Homo sapiens: one gene and its partners. The protein of the gene in region 2 purifies or fractionates together with the protein of the main gene of each other region. This does not show direct contact. Each region holds a gene or a part of one and is shown on either strand. Other genes may lie near its edges. The genes, in order: SON, SLC14A1, CYBRD1, MAP7D3, TMEM63B, ATP6AP2 and CLCN5.

What was found.
Region 1: the proteins of SLC14A1 (region 2) and SON purify together in Homo sapiens (affinity purification with mass spectrometry; one large-scale study listed by BioGRID and IntAct). This does not show direct contact.
Region 3: the proteins of SLC14A1 (region 2) and CYBRD1 purify together in Homo sapiens (affinity purification with mass spectrometry; one large-scale study listed by BioGRID and IntAct). This does not show direct contact.
Region 4: the proteins of SLC14A1 (region 2) and MAP7D3 purify together in Homo sapiens (affinity purification with mass spectrometry; one large-scale study listed by BioGRID and IntAct). This does not show direct contact.
Region 5: the proteins of SLC14A1 (region 2) and TMEM63B purify together in Homo sapiens (affinity purification with mass spectrometry; one large-scale study listed by BioGRID and IntAct). This does not show direct contact.
Region 6: the proteins of SLC14A1 (region 2) and ATP6AP2 purify together in Homo sapiens (affinity purification with mass spectrometry; one large-scale study listed by BioGRID and IntAct). This does not show direct contact.
Region 7: the proteins of SLC14A1 (region 2) and CLCN5 purify together in Homo sapiens (affinity purification with mass spectrometry; one large-scale study listed by BioGRID and IntAct). This does not show direct contact.

The regions. Positions count from the first base shown.
Region 1 is NC_000021.9:33,570,261-33,574,357, reverse strand, and holds part of SON (protein SON), read right to left. Parts: intron 1,808-4,097; exon of another isoform or gene 1,728-1,807; intron 1,051-1,727; coding exon 903-1,050; intron 1-902. UniProt on the Homo sapiens protein: RNA-binding protein that acts as a mRNA splicing cofactor by promoting efficient splicing of transcripts that possess weak splice sites.
Region 2 is NC_000018.10:45,733,982-45,738,078, reverse strand, and holds part of SLC14A1 (urea transporter 1), read right to left. Parts: intron 3,806-4,097; coding exon 3,677-3,805; intron 1,624-3,676; coding exon 1,431-1,623; intron 614-1,430; exon of another isoform or gene 485-613; intron 1-484. UniProt on the Homo sapiens protein: Mediates the transport of urea driven by a concentration gradient across the cell membrane of erythrocytes.
Region 3 is NC_000002.12:171,546,352-171,550,448, forward strand, and holds part of CYBRD1 (plasma membrane ascorbate-dependent reductase CYBRD1), read left to right. Parts: intron 1-4,097. UniProt on the Homo sapiens protein: Plasma membrane reductase that uses cytoplasmic ascorbate as an electron donor to reduce extracellular Fe(3+) into Fe(2+).
Region 4 is NC_000023.11:136,244,609-136,248,705, reverse strand, and holds part of MAP7D3 (MAP7 domain-containing protein 3), read left to right. Parts: intron 1-2,364; coding exon 2,365-2,463; intron 2,464-2,557; coding exon 2,558-2,641; intron 2,642-3,910; coding exon 3,911-4,074; intron 4,075-4,097. UniProt on the Homo sapiens protein: Promotes the assembly and stability of microtubules.
Region 5 is NC_000006.12:44,137,443-44,141,539, forward strand, and holds part of TMEM63B (mechanosensitive cation channel TMEM63B), read left to right. Parts: intron 1-1,037; coding exon 1,038-1,075; intron 1,076-2,024; coding exon 2,025-2,167; intron 2,168-2,265; coding exon 2,266-2,317; intron 2,318-2,809; coding exon 2,810-2,918; intron 2,919-3,585; coding exon 3,586-3,656; intron 3,657-4,097. UniProt on the Homo sapiens protein: Mechanosensitive cation channel with low conductance and high activation threshold. Osmosensitive cation channel preferentially activated by hypotonic stress.
Region 6 is NC_000023.11:40,593,977-40,598,073, reverse strand, and holds part of ATP6AP2 (renin receptor precursor), read right to left. Parts: intron 826-4,097; coding exon 730-825; intron 548-729; coding exon 410-547; intron 1-409. UniProt on the Homo sapiens protein: Multifunctional protein which functions as a renin, prorenin cellular receptor and is involved in the assembly of the lysosomal proton-transporting V-type ATPase (V-ATPase) and the acidification of the endo-lysosomal system.
Region 7 is NC_000023.11:50,079,256-50,083,352, forward strand, and holds part of CLCN5 (H(+)/Cl(-) exchange transporter 5), read left to right. Parts: intron 1-1,338; coding exon 1,339-1,461; intron 1,462-2,385; coding exon 2,386-2,592; intron 2,593-4,097. UniProt on the Homo sapiens protein: Proton-coupled chloride transporter. Functions as antiport system and exchanges chloride ions against protons. Important for normal acidification of the endosome lumen. May play an important role in renal tubular function.

The DNA of each region.
Region 1 (4,097 bases), on a different chromosome or scaffold from region 2:
TTTGGTGCAGAGCTAGTTCATTTCCAAATTCATTAAGACAGTTTAACTATTGAAGTTAGCTTCAACTTACTGTTTGATTACAAAGATGAAAATAAATCCCAGTTTTACATTTGTCAGCTTTTATAAATGAGGTTTAAACAAGCTATACAAAAATCATACTGAGCTGGCAAGCCTCTCATGATTCCACTTACATTATTCCAAGGGAAGAAGTTATTTAAAAGACGCCAATTAGCTATCATCTGTGGGAATGATTAAATACTTAGCAACTACATACAAGCTACATAGAAGACACAGTGCTGCCCTGCCCAGGTATCTGAAGGTAAAAGGAAAATACAGTCAATGCTAACAGTTCCAAGATGCCTTAACACAAGGCAACAGGAAGAAGTAACATTATTGTCAGCAGCTGGTCTACTATACTCTAACCCAACTTAACTACTGAGCTTGGAAGAAAAAAGCAAACAGGGTTTATGAAATCTAGACTAAACCAGTATTGTAATAGGAAATAATGAAGATGTGCTAAAATATCTAACAAAAAATAAACTAAACTCTAGAAAAAAGGATGGTTCCTTGTCAAGAGAAAATAAAATGGAAATCCTGTTTTCTAAACATGAAATCCAGTTGAATTTGGAGGTGTAATAATAAAATTAGATATATACACATTTCCATATTTAGCAACTAGCATAACAAAAGGTGCCTTTTAAAAGTTCAAACTGGTGTCTCTATCCATAGTTATATAAAAATAAGCTGCTCTGTGAACCCCAAAAGGGGTTAATGTTTTTTCTGACAAATACCTGTATATATACAAGAAGTGCCTTCAGTTCAGTATCACTGGGTTCAAAAGGATATATTAAAGGTAATGTTAAAGGAGACGTTAATAAACATTCCAAAAAAGAACTTGTTACCTTTTCGGTCTGTCTTAAAATCAACTAGGATGGGTTCCTTATTGCCTTCTTTGTTTTTTCCTAATCCTTCTCCTTCTCTCCAGCCCATTTTTCTCATCAAAACGGCTCCCATTCCTCCAGTTACCGGGGCTGCTCTTAAGAACTGATCCTATCCAAAGAAAGAAAGGTAAAATGTCCCCATTTTACAGTTAGAACTTGGTGACAGATTCATTGTTTACTTTCTAAAAAGAGGAATCTTACTTTACTTCTAGATCTGTTATAGCAATTAAATGTAAATTCCTCTATACTTTATACATACTGTAGTGTGTATGTTCTGATTATTTGCACATTAACGTAATAGTATTTTGGAAGTCAAATAAGACAAGTAAATGGCAGTTTTGAAACAGTAGCCCTCGTGCCCCCCTCAAAAAAAAAAAATTAGAACACTCCTGTTTTCGTCCACTATTTAGGTTCACTGGTATCTCTTCTTAGCTTGCAAAATAAAAAGAAGGCAATGTTAAAACAATCAATGATATTAATTGTCCCAGGTGTACCTAGTTTATGAATAAAGCCCAGAAATCACTTAGAAATAGTTTAGACACTGAAGAAGCATACTGTTGTCATCCAAAGTTTTCTTCCCCATTCTACTATAAAGCAAGTATAAATATTTTACTTAGAAAATCCCTAAAGCAGAAAAAAAAAAAAAAACTCTTGAAATTTACACAGTAACAAATAGAAAACAATCACATAAAATATCCTGTAAGTATGCCAAAATGAATTTGAATTCTTTTAAAACCTAGCTTGATGTTAAAAGACTTTTAAAAAACTCCTTAAATGTTTACATACCTAGGCCTCGGTAGCAGCAGTGTTGTGAATAGTACGGCTGGCACTGACCGGGGCAAGAAGACAGCTACAAGGATTTGGCCCTGAAACAAGTTTCCATACAGAGGGGTGAAAGTTCACAGGTTATTCTGTGAACAGTCATCTCTCTTGTATCCAACCCACTGAACCATAATTTCCATCAAAGCAGCAAACCACTTAATGTCCTAAGATGCACAAGTATATATACATTAGCATGGTCAACAGTTATTTTTACAGGTTAAGAAATATTCAATGCCTCTTATTAAAGGGCATCCATGTACATATAGCAAACAGTATTAAGTTGTACTGTTGATCTTTATGGTCATTTTTTAAAAATTTGAAACATATCTCCAAATCATGCTTTATTTTCCCCTTGTTACTAAATTTTAGGTTTTTATGTTCTCTTACCAAATATATATATATATATATATATAAATATATAATATAGCAAAAGTCATTAACTTATCAACAGAGAGAGTAAAAAAACTTCAGTAGCTCAGGAAATAGTATGCACATCTCCTATATTGATAAGTTAATACTGAATGTAAAAAAGAAATGTTTGTATGCAGTAGTAAAACTGTATCTATCATCTTTTGTTTCCCAGCTTTGTAATTAAATGCTGGGGAGAAAACATGCCAATGACGTGTGACTAGACATTAAGTTCATCAAGGTGCTCTGATGGAAGGAGGCAGCTGTGGAGGTAAAAACATACCCCTGGTTCAGTTCCTTATTTGGTGCAGGCCATGCAGTGTAGATGTATAAAGAGAAAGCTGATGCTTGGATATTAACTGCCTTGATGCTACACACCTAGAATGTCTTTTACTTACTTCCAGGTTCATCCGTCCCTCTTTTCCAGGGAACACGCCTAAAAAAAAGGGCAACTGTGCAGAGTACAATATAAATCCCCAAATAACCCAGGTTTCCAATTTTGTTTCCATTCCCTAGTATCATCATCTGTTTCTTTACCCCAGTGTGAAAAAGCTGATTAATTTAATGAGACCACAATAACAAACTGTATTTATCAGGTCACATCCAAATCATTCCATTCTAGAAATAAAATTTCTTTTAAACGAACTACTTTAAATGTTTTACTGATTAATGAGACTACTGATAAAACTTTGCTTTTTTTGTAATCTAAAAATACACTGCAACAAACTAAAAAGAACACGGAGGATGTTGGTATTCCATGTGTTTTTTAACACATAAGGCAGATGCTGGACTATACTAAAGAAGAGCCAAAATGATCGTTTGACAGGTTTTCTAAACACAACTAAACATTTAATGAGTAGACAATATTTGTGATATTTAACATGGATCATACATCCTAAATTTTCAGCTGCCTAATGACTTCTACATGTTGTGGCCCATTTTTAATTTTCAAAAGTTTCTTTTTTAGTTGATACTAGCATCAAATATTCTTCAGTAATTCTATACAAATGAATCTTTTCCTTTAAGTGCTACTTTTATCTATAATTTAAAATTTGGTCTGAACATATCTTTATCTCATAATTTATCAAAATAATTTGCTTCCCAAAGTATATCTTACATAAAATATAAAGTTGAAGCCTTTTTTCAAGGTGCTACTAAACATTTTAAAGTTATTAAAGTCTGTTAACTGCCTACAAGACTGCAAATACCAGAAGAAATTATTTTAGGGGAAAACCAATTGAGTCAGTAAAAGATTCACTTTTTAAAAGTTATTTAAGTTATTAACACATTTATAAGTATACAAACATTATGGATCAGCACATCATTAGATAAAGACCAAAATTTTGTAATGGAAGCACATTCAGAAGTTTCTACCTAGCAGTGTACATGACTCTGTATTATGTGCCTATTTTAACACCCATAAGCTTTATTTCTAACTTCCTGAAATACTGGCTGAGTACTTAGCTTCAAGACTAAATAGTATTAAAGAATTAAAACTAAAGAAATAGATGTACATTTATAGTTCTTCCAAAGATGAAAGACATTTTTTCAAATATTATATAAATCACTTTCATAGTAACTATAATATAGAAGTCCAAGATTAATCCAATCTTTAAAATATTTTGCTATATACATTTTCACCCTTTATTCTAACACCAACCCTCAGCAAACTGCAGAAATTGTAATTTCTTAATGAATCTAACTGTGTACTCACTATACACATCAGTGCAACTACTTCCCAAAAAAAGGCAGGCATAATGAGTATACATGATGTTTCATATTAATTTGTTAGTAAGATCAACAAAGATAAAGCTATCAAAATTGAAATAAATGTTACAAGATTAAAATACACAAAGCAACCAATGTCTCATTTTTCAGAAATTCAGCTCATTCACTGGCACTCATAGCAACTCTCTATAGGTAACC
Region 2 (4,097 bases):
ATGCTGAGTCTTCATGTCTAGACATTTTGCTATTTCTAGACCAGGGAACTTGGCAAAGATGGCATATGCTTTTTTTGTTTGTTTGTTTGTTTTTGGACTTGGCTGCAGAACTCTCTCTCAGGTAGCCATAGGGTTGGGGTTGGTGCTGAGGATGGGCTGTTCATTCAGAGTGAGAAGGACAAGGCTTCCCCTGCCCCAGATCAGCACTGTGCAGGATAACTTTCCGAGATGATGGAATAGTCTGTATCTGTGCTGTCTAATACAGTGGGTCCTAGCCACGTGTGGCTATCAAGCACCTGAGATGTGGCTAGAGAGGTTGAGGAACTCAATTTTTAACTAATCTACATCTAAATTTATATAGCCACATGGGGCTAGAGGCTCCTGTGTTAGTGCAGTTCTAGATCGATTAATGCTATTTTATACTGTTATTTTTCATGGGTAGTTCTAATGAATCTTTGATTTTTTCCTTCTGAATTATTTCCAGGTGCTCCCTTTAGTTTTCTGGCAAGAAGCTAGGGAGAAGGTGACTTGAGCTCCTCGTGTGTTTTGATCACTCAACAAAGAAGACAAAAGGGCGTTTCATAACCTGACAGTGGGAGAGCACATTAAAAAGGTAAGGTTTCTTTGGTTTTCTTCTAATTTCAGGTGTTCTCTTGTTCTTGATAATCCAGAAACCTTAAACATATTTATTACACACCAACAGGAAGAGCTGGAATTTGATTTGGGTTAACCAGGTTTTAAAAAATACAGAATCTCTTTATAGCCATCTTTAAAGAGATACATAGGATTCACCCCTTGATACAGTGGTTCTCAAACTCTGGCCCGCATCACAATTTGGGGAGTTTGTTAAAACAGGTTCCAGGCCCCACCCTTAGAGATTGTGATTTAGAGGGTCTGAGATGAAGCCTGTTTGGGTATTTAAAGCTCCCCAGGTGATTCTGATGCCTACCAAAGCTTGGGAACCCTAAATTATTGTAGATGTTCTATGAGCTATGCCATAAGGAAAAGCAGAATAGAGAGGTTCTGTCAGAAGCTCTAAGAGTAAGCATCCAGTTTTTTGATTGGAGGGAGTAGACTATGGAAGATTTAAAACCAGGCTGGAGGCCACATGCCTTAAGGGCTGGCTCCCATCACCCCCACCCCCAAGCTTACGATAGAGTGACTCCCAGTGGAACTGTACTCTGGGGTTAGCACTGTAGATGTTTAGGGGAAAAGGCAGAAAAATCAGCTTGACTAAATAGTAATTTTAAAAAATCCCTTAGACCCTAATGCTCTGGAGTAGAACAAATGCTTTAAATGGCAAGATGAAGGCAGAAAGGCCACCATAGTCCTGAGCATCTAGGAGACTCTGACACCCGTGGACAGTTGACCAGGAGGCCATTGCGTATCTTGCAGAGCCAGGGCGAATGTGAGAAGCCAGTGTCTCTTACCTCCAGGGCACTGAGGTCAGACCAGGAGATATTTGGAGCTGTAGTTATAGGTATGACCAGTTTGGCTGGAAAGAATGGATTGTAATGTCCTGTGGCTGAAAGGTACATTGACAACGCCATGTTGAAAGGGAGGGTGAAGACGGGGAGGTCCCATTTGCTGAGCATGGAATTCAATGCACTTGAGAAAATTGGGCTAAAAAAAGAACAGAGCAAAAGAATGTGCATGTGACAAAGCAGGCTGACACACGGAATCGCTATACTCTGGAGGGGCTTTGTTTCACCTGCCAACAGGCCCCTTACGTGTTGTGTTGGCACATTTGCCACAGAAAGAAAACTTGGGATAAATCCTATTATAGAGGCAGTAAATATTACATAAAGTAAAAAATCAACTCTCAGCTTATTTGGCTTTTGAAAAATTCTACTCTGGGGTTGCTCAGAGTGAGCTATATATTGAGATTTTAAAAATATTTTTGAAGTACTTATGACATACAAAATAAAATATTATCTACATAGTTAAAGTCCCCTTTGTCCCTCCACTTGCTCTTATGTCCCTCCCTCCCCACTAGAGGCAACCCTGATTCTGATTTGGCAGATATTATTTCTTTAATATACCTATTTTTGGAAAAGAGAAACAATCGTTCAAGGATGCAGGTAGTGTGAGCTGGAGGAAAATGATATCACAGTTGGTGGGGCAGAGTGTGTGTCCTTGAGCTGTTGATAAATTGCATGACCTAGGCAAGGCGCATCTCCTTAGCCTCAGAGCCCATAAACTGTGGGGCTGGGCTGCATGGTCCCGAGGTCCCTCATAGGCTCTCACTTGTTGGCCCAATCAAAGAGCCATCACTTAAAGACCAGAACTCCCATTTTCCTGGATTGTGGAAGGGAGCGTGGTGAGCACTTACAGGCTAGGCCTCCTTCCCACGAACCTATTCTTCAGAGCAGGGCCCAAATTACTTCCTGAAGAGTTTAGCTCTACAGGTAGGTCCTCGTCCACACACCCGTGGGTACAGTAAGGGTGGGCATCCCTTCTGCAGACACTGCCCACAGCAGGCTGTGCTTATTTATGTGCATATTAGTATTTTATATTTAACTACAATATAGAAAGAAGGAAATCTTTGTTTCCAGAAAAAGGATGTAAGACATTGTCAACATAAAAACTAGTTTGAAGGATTTGGGTTTGAAAAAAAAGGAATTCAGCAAAAAAATTTTTTCTAAGGGAGACCTGGGGGGCAGGTGGGTAAGGGGGAATTCACGTAGGCACAGTGGTTCTCCCAGCATCATGTGGGAATGCGTTAGAAACGCAAATTCTCGGGCCCCACCCCAGATAGACTGCATCAGAAACCCTGGGGCCGGGGAGCAGATGCCTGTGGTGTAACAAACCCTGCAGGTGATTCTCATATTGCTCAAGTTTGAGAGGCAATGATGGAGGAAGTGGGTCTCAACTTTGGCTATACTTTAGAGTCATCTGGGAAGCTTTAGAAACTCCCAAAGCCCAGGCGCTACCGCAGACCAATGACAGTAGAGTCTTGGGAGGGAGGAGTCAAGTGTATGTGGGGGCCACGTGCATCAGTGTGTTTCTACCAAAAAGACACCTGCACTCGTATCTTCATTGCAGCACTGTTTCCCTTCCCCATGGAAGTGTCAATGTGCAGCCACCTCTGGTTGAGAGGTATTAGTGGATGTGTAGCCAGATCAGACAAAAGGCCAAATAACTGGTTGTAAGGAAATATACATCTTTTAAAATGGTTGTTTCTGTTTCCAATAGACAGAATCTACTGGAATCCAATTTTAAATTTACCATTTTAACTGTTTGTCCTCCTCCTGCTCCTCTTCCTCCTTCTCCTTGCCCTCCTGCTCCTCCTGCTACTCCTCCTCCTTTCCATCCTTCTCCTCCTCCTCCTCCTCCTCACTTAGCCCAAGCAAGGAGGTTCGGAGAACTGGAGTGCGGTGACGCAATCATAGCTCACTGCAGCCCCTAACTCCTGGGCTCAAGTGATCCTTCCCCCTCAGCCTTCTGAATAGTTTGGACTACAAACAAGAACCACCGCACCCGGCTAACCATTTTTAAGTGTGCAGCTCAATGACATTAAGGACAATCACATTGTTGTACAACCATCACCACTATACATTCAGAGAACATATTTCATCTTGCAAAACTGAAACTCTGCCATATAACAACTCCCATTCCCTCCTTCTGCCATGTTTTTTTTTTCAAAAAGGCATTTTGAAAACCAATTGTAACTTACCAAGTCATGGACATAGCACATACAGGGAGTAACAGCCACCAGAAATAGTCTCCCTTGTCCGAAAAGACAGCCATGAGTACTCCCACCAGGGTGGCATTGTAGCCATAGAGCCCAGATGCTATTAATGACCTGTGGGGCAAGAGACACAGCACGGACATTTCCTGGGTGAGCTTTGGTTGCACTTGCACATAAATAACACTAGTAACTTCCAGATCATATTCATATTAAAAAATGAGATTATATTTGGAAATGTATTTCAAAGTCTACGTAAGCATCGTACAAAAACTAATAAAGACATGAAGTGAAATATACATAGATAAAAATATAAATGTGCATTTAGATCAGTGGTCCCCAGCCTTTTTGGCCCCAGGGACAGGTTTCATGGAAGACAATTTTCCATGGATGGGGAATGGGGGATGAT
Region 3 (4,097 bases), on a different chromosome or scaffold from region 2:
AGGGCTTAGCACACTGGTATAACACAAACTAGCTGTTGTTATTATAAGTGTAAATCCTGTGGTATGCCCCTTTATGACCTGCAGATGACATTTTCCACTTCTACTATTGATCATAGGTACCTTCATGGTTAAGAACATGCATTTTTTGTCATTGCAATTTTATTCCCAAATCTATTCATATATTCAGCAGTGAACCGAATACCCGTTATATGCCAGATACCTTGCTAGGCTGGGCTGTGGGTGATACCTGTTCCACAAGACAAATGTGGGCTCAAAGAGACATGCTCTCTGCCCTTGTAAAGCTTGCAGGGAAGATAGGCAATTGAGTATTTGGTAGATAGGAAGTGTTCTGGGAGGCCTCTCATATAGTATGTGAGAGCTCTCATATAGGGGATAAAGGAAGTCACACCTCACACCAAGACCTGAAGCCACACACCTGGTGTAGAAAGGGCGGAGAGTCTTCTAGGTGGATGGAATAGCATGTGGGGAAGAGTTTGTGGTATTTGAGGAGTAGGGAGGAGACCAGGCTGTCCAGAGCAGGGCATAGAAGATGAATTGGAGGCTGGACAGGTATAATTATAGGGAGACTAGCTTGCAGGTGTTTATGGAGTTAAGATGAGAAACAATGGTGGCCTAGAGGAGTAGCAGTAGCAATGTAGCAAAGTGGATAGATTCTAAAGATATTTAGCAGGTAGAATTAATGCGTGATGTAAAGAATGAGAGAGAGTCACTCACAGGCTTTATTGAGCAGGTGGGTAGCCACAAGTTTGAATAAGTGGGTAGATGAGAAGGGAAACATTGGAGGGGAGGAGAGGGCTGGAGGAGTGTTAGATGCTACTGAGGAGATAAGCAAAATAAAGTCTGAAAACTGATCATTAGGCTTAGTAACCTGGAAGTCACTAATGACCCCAGAAAGCAATTTCCTGGCTTCCTTCCTAGGAGCCAGACTGCAATGGATTGAAGAGGGAGCAGAAGGTGAGGAAACAGAGTGGTAACTCAGTCAAGAGGTTTGGGTGAGAGGGGAGGAGACAGAGAGGGTGACAATTGGACAGGGGCAAGAGTCCAAGGAGGCATTTGGGTGCTCTTTTTTTTTTTTTTTTGTCTACTTCTGCTTTTTATTGTGAGAAGTTTGGGCTTATGGAAAGGCTAACAGGATGGCACCAGTAAAGAAAGAGACACTGTGAACACTGGAGAGACACAGTGATGTATAGCTAGGTCCTTGGGAAGCAGGTCACAGAGCACAGCTGAAAAATTGGAGGACATAATCTCCAATGTAATTGAAGAAAAGAATTGTTGGCTTGGGGTGATTTCTTGCTTTGTTTTGTTTGGTGGCAGGAAATTGAGGCTCTTCTCTGAAGTTGCTTCTGTTTTTCCCATGAGGTGATAGTAAAATCATCCCCCAAGAGTAAGGAGGCACATCGGAGAGTCAGACATTTGAGGATGGGGGAGAATGGAGAGCTCATTGATAAATAAGACAATAGAGGTTTGCTGAGCAGGGTTGTTGAACTGCTCATAATCATGAACTTGGAGTGATGCTAGTCTCTGTGGTTGTGGTTTACTCCAGTATTACCTAGCAGACCAGGGGTAGTCATGAAGATGGCTGAGCCAGGGTTGGGGTATTGCCAAGTTGATGTGATGAAAAGACAGTGTAGCAAGGAGATGTAGAATATTGGCAGGAGACTTAATGACCAGTTTGAGTGTCTGTTACGTCCCTTATAAAAAAACTATGGGCATATTGTAGTTGGTGCTGGTTAGATTTATTTATTTATTTATTTTTAATTTTTTTTTAACCCCTGGAAGAAAAGTGTCATTACACTGGAGGAATGCAATTTGGCAATGACCTAAGACAGCGTTTGGTCCCTAGAACAGCAGCATTAGCATCACTAGGGAAATTAGAAAGACAGATTCTCAGCTTCCACCCTAGATCCACTGAACCAAAGACTCGGGCTGGGGCCCAACAATCTGTGCTTTAACAAGCACATAAGGTGATTCAGATTAGTGCTAATATTTCTGAATAATTAATCTAAGAGAAAAGCCTATGAATGGTCAAAAAGTTGGACATTAACAGTAATATTAATGAAAATAAATGTGAGTTCTTTAACATTGGGAGCTTGTCTGTCTTGTGTAGCATTCCCAACACTCCGAACATCTGGGTCATAAGAGGGGCAAAACGTATGTGGAATGAAGGACTGAATGAGTTTATAAAATAGTACAAAGATGAAGGAGAGCTGGGAGGAGCTTCCATATAATAATCTACAGTTTACTTGAAAGCTCATTAAATCTACCTGTACCCTAAAAAAAAAAAAAAAAAAAAAGCAAACCATACCTACTACAAAAGCTAGCCAGGTAGATATTTTCTGGTCTCATTAATGTCTTTTGCAATAAGAGCTTTTGTTATGTCTAAAAGCTTACACACACTAAAAAAAAAAAAAAGAAAACAAAAGAAAAGAAAAAAAACCAACCTCAGGCCAGACATGGCATGGTGGCTCACGCCTGTAATCCCAACAATTTGGGAGGCCAAGGTGGGAAGATCAGTTGAGGCCAGGAGTTGAAGACCAACCTGGGCAGCATAGCAAGGCCCTATCTCTGTAAAAATAAAAACAAAAAAACTCATCTGTTTCATAAAGTGAGAAACTGCCATAGTAGTATACATTTATATCTTTAAGAATAGTAATAATTAACTGAGAAATGCCCAGGCATTTAAGATGGAAACTTTATTCTATTCTATTCTATTTATTTATTTATTTACTGAGACAGCGTCTCACCCTGTCGCCCAGGCTGGAGTACTGTGGTGCAATCTTGGCTCATTGCAACCTCTGCCTCCTGGGTTCAAGTGACTTTCATGCTTCAGCCTCCCAAGTAGCTAGGATTACAGGCCCATGCCACCATACCTGGCTAATTTTTGTATTTTTAGTAGAGAAGGTGCTTCACCATGATGTCCAGGCTGGTCTCAAATTCCTGGCCTCAAGTGATCCACCCACCTCGGCCTCCCAAAGTGCTGGAATGGCAGACATGAGCCACTGTGCCCAGCCAACATGGAAACTTTAAAAGTAAACTTTTATTGTCTATTTCTAATTATAAAAGTAATACACATTAATGTTAAAGTTTATAAGATGTAGAAAGATATAAAGAAAAAACCCTGGCTATTCTGGGCACACTGCCTGTGGGGTATTCCTGTTCCACAAGGAGTAGAACCTCTGCTGCTGCTACAAATTAAATAAAAAAACAAAAAATGAAAAAACCCACTGATACTGCCATAATCTAGAGATATCATTAGCTTTTGGCTTATTCCCTTTAGGCTTTTATTATGCCTATGCAAATGTAGATATAGATATTTAATTTTTAAACATAATTGGGTCATACTGTATTTTCACTTTCATCTCTAAGTAATAACTTTTTATGAAAGTTTATTTTTCCTTAGCTCTTAAGAACTTCCACTGTGTTGAAGAACAGCTTCCTGTAGGTGATGATTCCTAAACACTGGGGCACTTTGTTTGCATATAGTTGGCATTTAGTGTGTTTGTAGACTATATATAATGGAATATTCCACTACCTTCTCTTTTGAGGGTTTTCCAGACTGTTTATCCATATCTCTAGAATAATTTGAGTGAATCAACAGCAGTCATTTTCAAACTTCAACATACGTAAGAATCGTCTGGGCAGTTTGTTAAAAATACAGATTCCTGGGCCCTAATCCAGAAATTGGATTTAGCAGGTCAGAATGTGGCCCAGGCATCTTTTTATTTTTTATTTTTTTGTTGTTGTTGTTTTTGTTCTTGAGACAGAGCTTTGCTCTGTCACCCAGGCTGAAGTGCACAATGTCAGCTCACTGCAACCTCCGCCATCCGGGTTCAAGCAATTCTCTTGCTTCAGCCTCCAGAGTAGCTGGGACTACAGGCATGTGCCACCATGCCTGGCTAGTTTTTGTATTTTTAGTAGAGATGGGGTTTTGACATGTTGGCCAGGCTGGTCTTAAAATCCTGATCTCAAGTGATCCTCCTGCCTCGGCCTCCCAAAGTGCTGGGATTACAGCAGGCATCCCTTTAAATGCATGCCTTCTGTGAACAGCACTTCCAGTACTGACTTAGAGAGACAAA
Region 4 (4,097 bases), on a different chromosome or scaffold from region 2:
GTATATAATATGTGTTATGGAAGTTTTTAGAAAAGTTCTATAAATACAGATTAAGATTCATAATTCAGTTTTAGTAATACACTACACATTTTCTTATTTAATCTCTGGGCAAAATATAACTTTTACTTTAATTTTGGATTTAGAATTAGTATAAGGACTACAGAAATACCTTGCTGTTACTTTTAACTGAATATTAAGTAAATTCCCTCATTCATTTAAATGCATGTTAAGTAAATTCTTTCATTCAATGAAGTTGAATAAAATGTTGACTTTATTATATCCAGACATAAAGGTGTTATCCCATTTTCTGGACATTTTAAATAATTTTTAAACCCTGTCCTTTCTGTTAATGTATTTCTTACCAGTAGGAATTTGGATACAAAGGTCTAAAAATCAGATTTGATACTACTACCACATTAACCTTTATATGATTCGGTTCATTATTCTCACCACAGCTACTTCTAAGGTTATTTCTGTTTAATAAGATTTTTAATTAGCCTGGTAAAAGTATACTTTTTTTGAGACAGGGTTGCCCAGGCTGGAGTGCAGTGGGATGCTAAAGGCTCACTGCAGCCTCAAACTCTTGGGCTCAGCCTCCTGAGTAGCTGAGACTACAGGCATGCACCACCACACCCAGCTAATTTTTGTATTTTTAGAGATGGGAGTTTGCCATGTTGGCCAGGCTGGTTCCAAACTCCTGACCTCAAGTGATCCACTTGCCTTGGCCTCCCAAAGTGCTGGGATTACAGGCATGAGCCACCACTCTGGGCCAAAAATGTAGATTTTGAGGGAAATTATCAGCTAAATAGTGTCAAATACGGACTATCCTTGGGACTTCTAAGCAGGAGAACTGAATGTGTAAAAACAATACTACAAGTACTTTATTGTTTTCTCTGCACTCACATAAAAATGTTGCAAGTGGGTATATAGGAGTGTCTATAGACCAAGAATTTTTGTTAATATACTAGTGCTCAAATTCAGAAAATAATTGTGGTCCATGGAATTGCCAGTACTTAAATTATTAAGGAAGCTGAGAAGAGTCTAATCCTCAAATTAAGCTAGGTCATATATTATCTGGGCTGTTCGGCCTCTGGGGTAAAAAAAAAAAAAAAAAATGGTGATCCTTACGGCAGCAATTGTGATGTCATTTTCAAGATTATGCTGTAAAATAACTCCCTCAGTAGCAATTAACACCTCAGAGTTCATTCATTTTATAAGTCCAAGGACAGCCCCTCTATTCCCTCAGTTACTTTAACTGCCCATCTTCAACTGTTACATTTTTCTCAATACATAGAAACCAGACTTGTATGCAGCATCACAGGGGCTTACTTCCTGTGCTTTTCTACAAAAGAAGAACAGAGTTAGTTTTCAGTGTTATTTTCAATACTCTTTCTGAAGATGCTCAGTATTGTGGGACATTTTAGATATAGCCATGTGTGGAATTAAAGGGTTCAGGGATTCCCCTATAATAACTCATGTGTGTCATCCTGGAATTTTAGTTTTCTTACTTTTCCTCATACTGTGCTTTCCTAATCTTACACTTCACCCTTATTGAAGTTTATCACTTTTCTGCCTGTTTACACGTTTGTTTGCACCTTGTATAATTTATATTTGTTTGCTTGACATCTACCTAGAATGATACCATCTCATTGGAGATTACTTCTTCTAAAAGAATATTTATTTCTCCACCTTCAATATGCATCAGAATAGAGCTCAACAATTGTAGATGCCTGGGCCCCACAGCCAGAGACTGGTGATGGGGAGCGGGCAGGCAGGCATTGCTGATTTTCTAAAAGTGAGTTAGGTGATTCCAGTGTGCAACCAGGATAGAAAGCCCCTAATTTAGGTAATTTATAAATGTACTCCTTAACATTGGTTGGGCCTGATCTTTCACTGAGTATTTCACTGTTAACACTTTGCTTCCCAATTCAGATCCATAAATTCTTAACCTGTTATCTTCTGAATTCCCAATTTATGGTGAAACTTAATTTTCCCAATTCCTCGCCAGCTCAGTATTTCTAACACTTGGTGTAATGTTTTGTTTGAGACATTTTTAAAACCTATTAATCATTGGCTCCTACTCATCCACAAACTTATGCTGCCACCGCCACTAACAACTCAATTATCTTTATGTCTACAAATACCCTGGCCCATCATAGTAAACACTTTAAATTCTTTGTTAAAGTGTTGTTGAAGATCATAGGTGTTCAATATATCTTTGTTGTTGACCCAGATGAAATCAGTCATGATTTATAGAAGTGATCCTATCCTTTATCATCAAATACAATTGGCCGTGGTTTGCTGACTCCTGTGTTAGCTATCCGTATTCTTAACATCTAATCCTTTTATCTCCCTGTATTTTAGTTGCTGCAGCAAACGAGATTGCTAAGGAAAGGAGGAAGCAAGATGTGGTTAATCGTGTTGCAACCCATTCCTCAAATATAAGATCGACATTTAAACCAGGTATAATTTCTCTGATGCTTTGATAGATGTCAAAGTGTCATATCTTTAAAATTTGATATCCTATTAATATCTAACTATATTCTTTTTTTTTTAGTAATCGATGGATCCATGCTTAAAAATGACATAAAACAAAGATTAGCAAGAGAGCGCAGAGAGGAGAAAAGGAGACAGCAAGACGGTATATTTTAGACCTTTTTTCAAAAATCAAAATGAATTGTGTTATATATTGCAAAGTGTTTTTAACTTATTCCTCCTAATTTGTTTATATGATAGAGTATAATTTTTATATTATGTATTATTTTGGATTAAATCCTTTTACTAAATCAGGCAAGAAGGCCCATGAAAATTCTTTGATTAAATTGTTTAATTTTTGAAGGAGTAGTTTATCTTAGCTTTGATTTTCTGAAAACTAAGGTCTGGAAATTTCTTCAATATTTGTAAAAACAATCAGAATGGGATTTCAGTAAAAGTGATTCTTTTTTTTTTGTTTTGTTTTGAGGCGGAGTCTTACTCTGTCACCCAAGCTGGAGTTCAGTGGCGCGATCTCAGCTCACTGCAGCCTCCGCCTCCCGGGTTCATGCCATTCTCCTGCCTCAGCCTCCCGAGTAACTGGGACTACAGTCACCCGCCACCACACCCGGCTAATTTTTTGTATTTTTGGTAGAGACGGGGTTTCATCGTGTTAGCCCGGGTGGTCTTGATCTCCTGACCTCGTGATCCACCCACCTCGGCCTTCCAAAGTGCTGGGATTACAGGCGTGAGCCACCGCGCCTGGCCAGTAAAAGTTATTCTAAAAATGAAAATAAATTGCCAATAATCCTAACATAGATAAGATGAAAAGCATGTTACCAAGTTGTAAAAAGATTATCCTTTTAGATCCTAATTTATACAGAGTCACACTTCAGAAGCATTTAGTGAGGGAAAATTTGAATATAGGAAAAATTTTGCTCTCCTGTAATATGGTATATGGTTAAGTCCATTAATGTAAAACTGGCATGTTTAATATGGTCTGTATAGATGAGGACTTTGAAAGAAGTTTCCTAGTAGAAGGGAACAAAACATGTATCCTGGCCATGCAGTTTTTAATAATTAGTATTTTAATGTACAGCATATTAATATGGTAGGGTTTGACTTTAGCTCAAATCAGCAGAAATATCACATGAAAGAAAATATTTTTTCTTAATTTGGAATTGTAGTTTGGACAGGATGAGAGTCATTTGGCACAGACAATCCAGTTCTCCAGAGTTAAATGAATACTCAGTGAAAATGGTTCTGCAGTGGCTACCTCTGTTCACTTTTATAATAAATCTTTAGTTACTAGCACAGGTTGTGTTATTTTAAGAAAGTGAATGAGATGTGTTAACTTTTTCCTTCTGTGTGTGTAATGTGGAAAACCTAAATATTTTCTTGGCTCTTACACCTTGAAAATGTATTTGGAATATTTCAGCCAATAAAGAAACACAACTACTTGAAAAAGAAAGAAAGACCAAGCTCCAATATGAAAAACAGATGGAGGAAAGACAGAGAAAGCTGAAGGAGCGAAAAGAGAAAGAAGAACAACGGAGAATAGCTGCAGAAGAAAAAAGACACCAGAAGGATGAAGCACAAAAGGTACATAATTTTGCAGCCTGTGC
Region 5 (4,097 bases), on a different chromosome or scaffold from region 2:
CATACTGGTAGGTGGCAAAGTTGTCACATCTGCTAGCCAGAAGTGTCCAGATGGTCCCCAGACTCAGGTGATGTTGGCAACAGGTAGCATGGTCCTGAATCACGGCCGAAAGGCACCTTTCTACCCCATCCTGTGTTATGTCTGGACCTTCTGCTGGATGGAGTTTGGGGCAGGGTGCCCTCTGCGCAGCCCTCCCCTGAATATCCCCATTCTCTGCCTTTACATGCCTGGAGGGTGGAGGGGAGAGATTTTTTTTTTTTTTTAATTTTTCCCTGAGACAGAGTCTTGCTCTGTCGCCCAGGCTAGGGTGCAGTGGTGTGATCTCAGCTCACTGCAACCTCCGCCTCCTGGGTTCAAGCAATTTTCCAGTCTCAGCCTCCCAAGTAACTGGGATTACAGGCGCGCACCACCACACCCAGCTAATTTTTGTATTTTTAGTAAGAGACGGGGTGTCACCATGTTGGCCAGGCTGATCTCGAACTCCTGACCTCAGTTGATCCGCCCGCCTTGGCCTCCAAAAGTGCTGGGATTACAGGCGTGAGCCACCGCACCTGGCCGGAGGTGGGGAGATACCTTGCAGCTCATAGTGACCCTGGGCTTTTGTCCTTCTGGGGTAGACTAGAGGATAAATAGCTGGAATTCAGGCAGCAAGGCCCTCTTCTCTGCTTTTGGCAGCCATGTTGCAAACTTATTAGCCGGAGGTCTGGAGGTCCTGCTAACCTTAGAACCCCAAGCCCCACCCATCCCACCCTGGCCCACACAGCCACAGGGTATTTGCAGAAATCTGTAGATCTGGACATGGGGATTCACAGATAAACCTGTTTAGTGTTGGTCTTTTTTCTTTGAGGGCTGAGACCTTCCCTCTCTCTCTCCCTTTTTGGGTATAAGCTAGTTCTGAGGGTATAAGGATTTTTTTTTAGTGAGGGGTGTGGAAGCTATGCCTGGAGGTAATTATGAGAATGGGTGGGACTTGAGGGAGGAGAGAGGTTCGGGTTGGTGGGCTGGGGACTCCCGCTGACAGCCCTCTGTTCCCCCAGGGTTTCTGTTCCTGGCTGACAGCCATCTTCAGGATAAAGTAAGTGGACCATCTTCAAGCTCTAAAGAAAGAGAGAAACTTCAGAACCTGGCATCTCCCTACAAAATTCAGAAGCCAGCAGCTTTCAGGGCCTTAGCACTCCTCGCCAGCACAGCACCCTCCTCCCTGCTCTCAAAGGCCAAGCCTCGGGTGCCTGAGCCTCTGCTGTACCCTGAACACTCACTTGACCCCATAATCTCCTCTGTGACCCCCTGCCGGCCCCCCCGCTTCTCTCCCTGCCCTGCCCCACCTTGAGGGAGGGGGTGGAGCCCCTGCCTCAACCTCTGTGCAGCCAGTGAGTGGGGGCAGCAGTAGGCTGGGAGCAGCCAGCCAGCTGCAGGCAGAACTCAGGAGATCCAGCCAGAGTCCAGCAGGCAGGCAGTGAGCGCTGAGAAAGGCAGGAAGCCAGGACAGGTCAGCACTGCCGCCACCACTCCCCCAGGCCTCCCCCAAGGGTACCCGGGCTTCACTACGCCAGGCTCAGCCACACCCATGAGGTGCTGCTGCCCCTCCTCCCATCCTTCCTTCACTTCTGCCTCTTTCACCACTCCTCCTCCTGCTGGTCCTCCTCCTCTCTTGCCTTCCTCCCTCCTCAGATATTTCTCTTTTTTCTTCCCTTTTCTCTGCATTCCTCATTTTTCTTCTTCCCCTTCCTGTCTCTGCAGTCTCTTCTTTCTTTTACCTATCTTTTCCTTCTAGCCCTCTGCCTTCATCCCTCCCCTTCTCCATGCATTTCTCCTTTTTCTCCCTCCCCCTCTCTTCTCCCTTTCTCCCCTCTCCCTTCACAGAAAATAGGGGACCAAGAAGTCCCATTTCAGCCCTATACTACTGCCAGATCAGCTGGAGCTAGGGTGGGTTTGGGGTGGGAGTGGGTGAGGGCAGGCAAGTTGCAGCCCCCTTCTTGCCCTGGTCCTAACCTAATTCCTTTGTCCAACCCGTATGGCTGCAGGGATGATGAGATCCGGGACAAATGTGGGGGCGATGCCGTGCACTACCTGTCCTTTCAGCGGCACATCATCGGGCTGCTGGTGGTTGTGGGCGTCCTCTCCGTAGGCATCGTGCTGCCTGTCAACTTCTCAGGGGACCTGCTGGGTCAGTGAGGGCCAGGACGGCTAGGGTGGAGAGAGGATGGGGCTGGAGGGGATGTGCCCTGACCCCACCATCATCCTCTCCCTCTTCCCACCCCACAGAGAACAATGCCTACAGCTTTGGGAGAACCACCATTGCCAACTTGAAATCAGGGTAAGATGCGAAGCTGGTCGGCCAGGCCAAGGTCTACGACCAGAGTCTGGGCCATGATGTGGGACAGGGAGGAAAGGCAGCTGCGTTGATGGGAGCAGAGCCTACAGGGATGGCTATGGGTCCCTGAGGGCTTGGGTTGGAGACAGAAGAGGGAAATGCCTGCTGAGGATCCCCCAAGGATGAAGAGGATACAGAAGAGGAGGGTGAAATCTCAGGAACCAGGGAGGGCCAGCTGGGGCAGTTGGAGACACTGTAACCAGTGGGTAGGGCGTAGAAAGGTGACCTATCAGGGATATTTTCATTGGAATCGAAGAATTTTGGTGTCTAGGGGATGTGGGATGTGGGCCTGCCTTGCGAGGAGTCAGTGCCAGAAGGCTGGTGGCAGTAGAGGGCCCTGTCTGTATCAAGGGTTTAACACTGACAGGCTGAGGTGTCTCCTCTGAGTGTGTCCTAGCCCCAGTGGCTCCCATGTATCCTCTCTGCTTCTCCCAGGAACAACCTGCTATGGCTGCACACCTCCTTCGCCTTCCTGTATCTGCTGCTCACCGTCTACAGCATGCGTAGACACACCTCCAAGATGCGCTACAAGGAGGATGATCTGGTGCGTGGAGCAGAGCCCAGGTCCTGCCCCATCCCCAGCCTCTTCCCTTCCCTTCCCTGCAGGCCTCTTTTGTCTCAGCCCCAAGAGGTGTCAGCTAGGTTTGAATGCTGGCACAGCAGCTCAGGAGCTCCCATCCTGCAAGTTACATAACCTCCCAAGCCATGATTTTCTCATCTGTAAAATGGAATAACAACAGTACCTCCCCCAAGGTTGTGGGGAATACACAGAAACAGCCGTGCTGTGCCCAGCACTTGGGAAAATAGCAGTGGCTGATCCTAGGATAGTAATATTCCTTCCCCTTCTACATGCACTCACCAAGCCAGAACCGGACACCTACTCCATGCCAGCCACTGTGCTGGGTTCTCAGGGTCTAAGGAGCTGAAAGTAGTACCCCCTTCTGCCTCTATAACCCCTCAAGAGCATGGGACGGCGTGGCTCTTTTGTTAGGCTCACTGCCTGATTTCTGTTGGAAACACTCCCCTGCTTTCCCTGGGACCTGGCTTATCCATAACTAAGGCCTCCTCCCACCCCATCTGTTCCCCTCTGCTCACCTACTTCTCTACCCACTCAAAACAAAGCCTCTTTCTCTAGTGCCCCCCACCCCTCACATCCCCTGGCTCCACTGGGGTCAAGCCTCAGAAGGCAAACCCACTCCCCTGTCACCCAGGTGAAGCGGACCCTCTTCATCAATGGAATCTCCAAATATGCAGAGTCAGAAAAGATCAAGAAGCATTTTGAGTGAGTAAGCCACGCTTCCCCCTACCCTCAAGCCCTGCTGCAGAGCCTTCTCTGCCTTTGAACTCTAAGAACATCCTTATACCCTAGCCTGGAGCTCTGCCGTGGGTGGGATAGAGATTAGATCCAGGAAGAAATGTCCGATTCCAGGGTGGTTTAGCACTTGGGTCGGGTGATAGGCCCCTTTAAGAACAGGAAAAATAAGACAAAAACCTGAAGAGTGAGTCATTCAAACCCCCTAACCCCCAAACCTCCTCCTGGCTCAGACTGGGTCATAGGTTGTTGACCCAGGTCCATTGGAGTACATATCTTCTTCAAAATTAAAAGCAGCATTCTGGAGTTTGTGTGCAGCCATGACAGGGAGAAGCTCCTTGGTTTCCAGTGGATTCCAAGGAGTCCAGGAGAACTTGAACTGTGTATTCTCTGAGGCTTTTTCAGCTCTAG
Region 6 (4,097 bases), on a different chromosome or scaffold from region 2:
ACCAGTCACCAAGTAGATCTATGACCTCTGGCTTGTTTGAATTAATAGGTGGCAACCCTCGTGCTAAAATGTGATGTTATTTACCACAGCTCAACTCACAAAAAGGATCAGTTTATTCATGAGAGTCATAAGAAAATTACACTAAAGAAGAATCTACCCCAGCAGTAAATGTGCACAATCTTTCATTTTCTAAAATAGCAAAATTTCCAAAATTTCAAGTAGTATAAGGAATGGGAGGCCAGATGCAGTGGCTCAAGCCTGTGATCCCAGCACTTTGGGAGGCCAAGACAGGATTGCTTGAGGCCAGGAGTTCAAGACCAGCCTGGACAACAGAGTGAGACCCTGTCTCTATTTTTTAAAAAGACGGAAATTAATGATATTCATGTATTCATTGAATAACTGCACTTACTTCATTGTTCCTACTCAGAGAATTGAGGGGGAGTGAACTGAGAACAGAGTTTTCTTGAAACAGGCGATTACGGAGCTGGCGCAAGGTGACTGAAAGGTCTTCAAACACTGAGTTTGCCTTCCCTACCATATACACTCTCTGTAAGAAGAATAGAAAATTTTAAGTTGCTCAAATTCTACAGATTAGTTCCAATACCCAGAGGTATGACAACATTGTTCATAAATTAGTTTTATATTTTCATAATAAAATTACATTTCATAATTTTCAAATAATAAAAGCTTATTTTTTAAAATGTCTTGAATAAAACCCTTATCACTTACTTCCTCACTGGGAGCCAACTGCAAAACAACAGGAGTTTCCTCAGAAAATAAGGAGTGAATGGAATTTGCAACACTGTCAAGACTAAAAGGAACTGCCTGAAATTTAAGAGTAAGAACGCAATTATTATGTGAACCAAAGTGGGAAGAAAAATCATTCAGATGGTATTTAAAAAGAAGCCTTAAACTTTTTTCCAGCACTTTCTATGGAAATTTAGAAGCCCGAAATCATTTCCAAACAAGCCCTTTTGAGGGCACAGAAGATTAAACAGCCCCCTGGTAAGCCAAGTCTGTATCTCCCATCATGCCTCAGTGGAAAATAACTTAAACCTGATGGACACAACACTATATCTAGCACAAACCATTTTCTGGTGGTCATTCATGTATTTGAAGCAGCAATACATTTGGTTTCAATATTGACTAAATGTGCCACGATGAATGCATATTCCACAATAAAGTATTTAATTTGCATTTAAGAGGTTAGAGGAATCTGAGTATTGAATTTAATTGAAATAAAAATGGAATTCATCTTTCATTTCAAAATTTTAAAAATGTTTAATGAGATTTAACATTTGTCTTCAGATAGCCTAAAGACTCTTAGATAAGGTGTTAAGTATGTCACAAGGTTTTTGAAGCCTTTATCTTAGGACATGTTGATATTATTAGATTGAAATAACCAATGGTGATAAGACCTACTTTTTTCCTTCAATTTTTTTATTAAAGTGCAAAATACATATAATATAGTATACAAATCTTGGGGTAACAGCTCAACAAATGTTTACACATGCATGCACTCAGGTAGCCCAGCCAGATCGACACAGAACACTATCAGCGCCCTCGAAGTACTACCTCCACCCTCAAGGGTAACAAAAATTCTGACTTCTATCCCCATAGATTTGTTTTGCAGTACATGATTTAAAAAAATAAATTACAGTTATTTTTCCCCTAAAAAAATTATTTCATTCCCAGTATTACTGTATTAAAACAAGCAGTACAGTCATGTTTTTGTTTTAATGGAGATTTCTTACATTGATCTTTCATTCAGTAGTTCCCTTACTACTTAAAGATTCATGTTTACAAGTAGCAAAGTAACGCTAATATGATACAGGCAGAAATCAATGTGATTATGTCTTACTGATAAAATCCCAGCATCACATTTTTTTTTTTTTGAGACAGAGCCTCACTCTGTTGCCCAGGCTGGAGTACAGTGGCGCGATCTCGGCTCAGTGCAGCCTCCACCTCCCAGGTACAAGTGATTCTCCTGCCTCAGCCTCCTGAATAGCTGGGATTACAGGCACGCACCACCACGCCTGGCTAATTTTTGTATTTTTAGTAGAGACGGGGTTTCATCAAGTTGGCCATGCTAGTCTCAAACTCCTGGCCTGATGTGATCTGCCTGCCTTGGCCTCTCAAAGTGCTGGGATTACAGGCGTGAGCCACCATGCCCAGGCCCAGCATCAATATTAAGTGATCAATTTTATGATTCTGTGAAATGAAATAATTTTTTTCTCTTACTCAAGATGCTTATTAACTCTTCCCCAAATTCTCTCAAAATGAGTTAATGAGTAAGTGAAGAGGGGGAAGAGAGTTCAAAGTTGCAAAAGCATACTGCTAGCAGCCGCCCTGAATCATCTATAGGTGCTTTCCTTTAGCGATCATAGAGTTTACCTCCTCAGGCTGTGAGGGGAATACATGAGCAAATGATGCAAACTTTCCAGCCTCACTTCACTTAGTGAAATGGCGCTCGGTTCAGGAAAGTTGAAGATTAGGAACCATGTCCATAGCGATCAAATTGAAGCAGCTCATGAATCAAATGAACACCAATGAAGGAAAAGAAATAATTATATAGGCAGCTAAGCTCAAAAAGTAAAAAGCTTGGCTGCTTAATATCGAATGATGGTTTTTCTCTCACTGTATTGTAAGGGAGATGCATATCTGTCCTCAAATTTCTGTACCTGTATGACTTGAAATTCTAACTAAAACAGCTAGCTAATCAAATGGAAGCTTCGTTAAATGGAATTCTAAGATACTCTGATTTTTATGTTTTGTGGGGTTTGCCCCTGAATCTTTTATCTCATTTACCATCTTCTGCTAGGAAAAGCATTGAGCAGCCAACCAGGGCCAAGCAATAAAATGAGCTCCTCACACAGCACAGCTTCTTCTCATGTAAAATGAGGCTAGTCTGTTTTTAAATCTTTATTTTTGGATTACATGCTAATAAAAATCTCAAAATGGCATTTTGGATTTTTATAATTTTAAAGAAAATCTTCTGCAATGATTTTCACAGAAATCACATAAAAAATGACTTAAATGCTCCCTGTGAAATAATCTGCCTTTTGATCTGTATTGTTCCCTTCCTTCTACTTTATGTGTATTTACTCTGAAGTTCTTCCGCTTTCTTTAGCTCATTAATTTCCATTCTTAGACAACCTAAATTGTCTAAAACATGCATTTAAGGCTATAAATTTCCCTTTTCTTACCACGTTAGCTGCACCTCCCAATTTTGTAAATAAATGCTACATTCATTGTTACTCAGTTCCAAATAATTTAAAAAGTTCCACAGTGATTTCCTCCTCAACCCATGAATTATTTAGGAGTGCATCTATTCCAACTATCTTTTCTTGTTGACTTTTTTTGCTTTTAACATCTCTAAATAAGACACTTAAATTACATCTCCTGATTTTTCAATTTTAGGTCTTGTCTATTTACTATCCATTATAGAAAATGAGGCTTTAGCTCTCTCACATCACCAACCACTGCCCCATCCATGCGCTGAGCCATCCATGCGCTCTGCTTCTGTTTCTATCTCCCCACTCTTACCCAATAGTTATATCAAAATTTTCACTTGATCAGCATCATTTCATTATTATGACAATGCAAATAATACTCAGCCTAGCTCATACTACACAATCACTACATTTTCCTTGCTTTCCTTCTACTCTCATTCCTTTGTAATGACAGTGTCTTTTCTCCCTCACAGCTTTTAAGATTTTCCATTTCCTTGATGACTCTTCAATTTCACCGTATGTAGGTGTGGATCTGGCTTTTGCCTACTGGGTGTTCCATATGCTTTAAATCTGAGGAGTTGTTATCTTCTGTTTGTTACTATTTCCAAATACTTTTTATTTTATTTTTAACTGACAAATAGTAACTGTATATATTTATGGGGTACAATGTTATGTTTTGTTATAAGTTTACAAAGTAGACTGATTAAATCAGGCTAATGAACAAATCCATCACCTCACATACTTATATTTTTTTTGTGGTAAAAGTATCTAAAATCTACTCCTTTAGCAATTTTGAAATACACAATGCATTATTATTTAATATAGTCACCATTTTGTGCAATAGATCACTAAAGCATGATCCAG
Region 7 (4,097 bases), on a different chromosome or scaffold from region 2:
CTCTGAGGGCCTAAGATAATGGAAAACCTGTGTCAAATTTACAACTCAGAAAAAACCTGAGCATTCTGGTTCTCTTTGTCTAGGTCAGTGAGTTACTTTAATAGTGTTTTGTGTTATGAAGTCAAAAGTCCATTGGGTTTTGTATTTACTGAGTGAGTTGCAATTCCTAATATTTCTACCAGCAAGCATAACTTCCTAATCAAAATTGCTTTTTTTGTAAGACATGACTATTTGCAGGCCCTTTAATATGGATGAATCTTTCCTGCTGGTCAAAGCTAGATTTCTTTTGTGGCATGCTTCATTTATCACAGGGGAATAGTCTCAAAAAGTATATTCTTTCTATTTTAAAAAATAGTTGTTTCCATTTTATTTATTTATATCTGGTACCACCAGGGTCCAAAACTTTCTACTTATATGGTTGTTCCTGAGTCTGTGGTACCAAAATTTTCTTGAAGATGTAGTTATATGTGGACTCTAAAAAAGAAAGTTGAGTAAACAGAACCAGAGAGCAGAATGGTGGTTACCTGGGGCATGGAGGAGGAGGAAATGGGGAGAAGTGGACCAAAGGGTACAAATTTGCAGTGAGGTAGGGTGAATAAGTCTAGAGAGGTAATGTACAGTAGAGTTAATAATGCTGTATACTAAAAATTTGCTAAGAGTATATTTTAGATGCTCTTACCACACATACAAAGAAAGGTAACTATGGAAGGTGATATGCATGTAAGTTTATTTCAATGTAGTAACAATTTCGCTATATGTATATATATAAAACATCATGTTGTACACCTTAAATACATACAATAAAAAAATTTTAAAAAGCAAAGAAAAAAGCCAAACACCCAAAATTTTGTTACTATAAACTATGAGAATTTGACACCAAGGTAAGTAGCCAAAGGTGAATTTAGTGGAACTTTAGATCCGCTCTTCACTTCAGATGTGAAGCCAAGGTTCAGCCATTCCAAAAAAGCTGGGGGGGTGCTCTTAAGACTCTTGGTAAAATGACATGGAATCATATATATTTGACTACAAAACCCATCAAAGCACTCATATAGAAAGAGAATTTTGTTTCATGGTTTTCCGTTTGCTCTTTTCCTTGTTCATCCTTAGAATCCATGGTAAATTTCCTTTGGGTGTAGCAAAGCATCTCATTTTCAGTACTAAGTGGCCTGACAGTGTTTCAGTAGTTGACAATTCAGAAAGAAAAGTCTTGAACAATTTAATCTCGGTGGTTTTTTTTTTTTTTGGACTTTTTTTCCTGAAAAAACATTACTCAGAAGAGCTGCATGTCTCACTGAAGCTGTCTAGGCTAAAACAAGCTTCTTTTTCCCCCTGTTCCAGGGAGCCTTTGCCTACATAGTCAATTATTTCATGTACGTCCTCTGGGCTCTCCTATTTGCCTTCCTTGCCGTATCTCTTGTCAAGGTGTTTGCGCCTTATGCCTGTGGCTCTGGAATCCCTGAGGTGAGTCTCTTAAAATGGTTTATAAATGGTTACAATATGAATACTTTTTGGTTAAAATCTCTTAATATGTATTCCAGCACATACCACAATTTGATGAATGTTAAACAGGATCAGATCCTGAGGCCATCTAAGACCTAGGTCTTTCCACAAGTCCCTCTCAGCCTGGGCTACCAGGAAATTAAAGGGAGTTGATTCTTAGCCTCCTGAGGGTTCCTGTTGAGCCAGGCTCTGGAAAACTTCCCCTGTTCCCTATCCAAAAAGCTTCCAGAGTATATCCCAAGATTCTGACCTGAAAAAGCAGTGTTATTGTCAGCTTTTTCAGGGCAAAAGAAAGAAAATCATTTGGTACCTTTCCCACAATATGATTTAGGCTACATGGGATGGTTAAAACCCTGTTTCTAACTACTTTTGGCTTAGATTGCTTGACAGTGACTAAAGACACTGAGACTTAGGTTACCAGGATGACTTTGCCCTTCCCTGTTTCCTGACCAGGTAATAAGTCACAATTTTTTTTTTTTTTAAGCCAGGGAATCAAGACTATACCTAACCTTTAAGGTTGTTTCAGGGACATTAGCCTTGTCCTCTCAAAACATGCCTCTTGGGCTACCACGTTGTAACATGAGGAAAACACCTATCCCTCCCTCTCCAGCTCCTCCTTCATATATGCACACTCTCATACTTACAATACATCCTTGCCCAGCTATCACTCCCCTCCCCCTAAAAAGGGGGAACATGAAAGCTTAAAGAACAGTTCTTGCTTTCTTGGGCTCCTGGGCTCTCTTCCAAACAGGGATCACTGTAGGTCAAGCATTTATATGTCACTTATTCAAAAGGTGCAGTTTCTATAATGAGGTCCAGATTTTTGCTTCTTAGCCTTGTTGACTTCCTTAGTCTATATTCAATCTTTCTGTGTTTAACCTGCAGATAAAAACTATCTTGAGTGGTTTCATTATTAGGGGCTATTTGGGTAAGTGGACTCTGGTTATCAAAACCATCACCTTGGTGCTGGCAGTGTCATCTGGCTTGAGCCTGGGCAAAGAGGGCCCTCTAGTGCACGTGGCTTGCTGCTGTGGGAACATCCTGTGCCACTGCTTCAACAAATACAGGAAGAATGAAGCCAAGCGCAGAGAGGTAATAATGAATGGCCTTAATAGTCTCTTTTTGGTTGTGAGCATAAATGATACAATCTTAGGGGGTGAGAATTTGAGAGTTCTACCAATGTTAATGCAAACACCCTTTGACCCAGCAATTCCACTTGTAGGAATTTATCCTACAGATATCCTAGCATGTGTGTGCACAAAGGTGTATAAGGATAGTGCAGCGTCTGTCAACATAGTAAAAAACTGAAGCAACAAAAATGTCCATCAATAGGGAACTGATCTAATAAATACTATTCTGTTCATACTGTAGAATACTTTGCAACCATTAAATGAGATAACCTTTTATATATTGACTTGGAATTCTGGCTATGAAACACCATTTGATTTTAAAAGCCAGTTTCTGAGTAATGTATATAATATAATTCATATTTTTTAAAAGTGTACATGCACTTATTGATAGAAAATGTCTGGAAGGTGGTTTTACCCCAAACTGGTTTTACTTTTTTTTTTTTTTGAGACAGGGTCTCACTCTGTCACCTAGACTGCAGTGCAGTGGCATGATCACGGCTCACTGCAGCCTCGACCTCCCTGGCTCAGATGATCCTCCCACCTCAGCCTCCCAAGTAGCTGAAACTACAGGCACGCACCACCAAACCCAGCTAATTTTTGTATTTTTTGTAGAGACGGGGTTTCACTATGTTGCCCAGGCTAGTCTCGAACTCCTGCGCTCAAGCAATCCTCCTCCCTCAGTCTCCCAAAGTGCTGGGATTACAGGCATGAGACACGATGCCTGGCTCACGTCAAACTGTTAAAAATGTTTATCTATGGTGAGTGGGAGAGTGAGGGGTAGTGAAGGAGAAGTAAGGATTTTAACTTTTTATTGTATGTAATTCTATTCAAGTATATATTGCTTCTCTTACAAAATAAGTTACAGAAAGAATAGATTTTAAAAGAAGTTGTTTATTGCTATGGAATAGTACATATAAGTGCAGTGTATGTTTCAGATGTCGGTTTTTTCACTTTCTATTTCTATCTAACACTATACTTGAATTAGTTTCTCTCTGTATTGGACCTCTCTCTACCTTTTGTTTCAGCCCAGCTAAATTAGTCCCGCCATGGCACCTCTGTAGTGGCTGTCATGTTTATGCAGTTGTTAATGTATGCTGTTTTGAGGAGGAAGGACTTTTTTAAAAAAAAGTTCCAAGTCATTGGTTTACTTTTTTCTTGCTATAATTAAGGGCCTAAGAGAATAATGGCTCTTGCTTTATTTTCTTTGAATTACAAAGAAGTCACATATGGAATGGGTCAAGACTAAGGTCATTTCACTTAAAAGGATTTTTCACAAAACAGGAACCTAATGATTTCTTATGAAAACCAAAAAAAAAAAAAAAATTAACCACAAGACCCAGAAGGAAACTCAAAGATATTGAGATTTCAAATATAGAATAAATTTTGTTGGTTCAAGGGAGAAAGGTCCTGGCACTGTTAGAAAGGAGAGGAAAGCTAGCAGGAGAGAAGATGGGGAAATATGAGTAG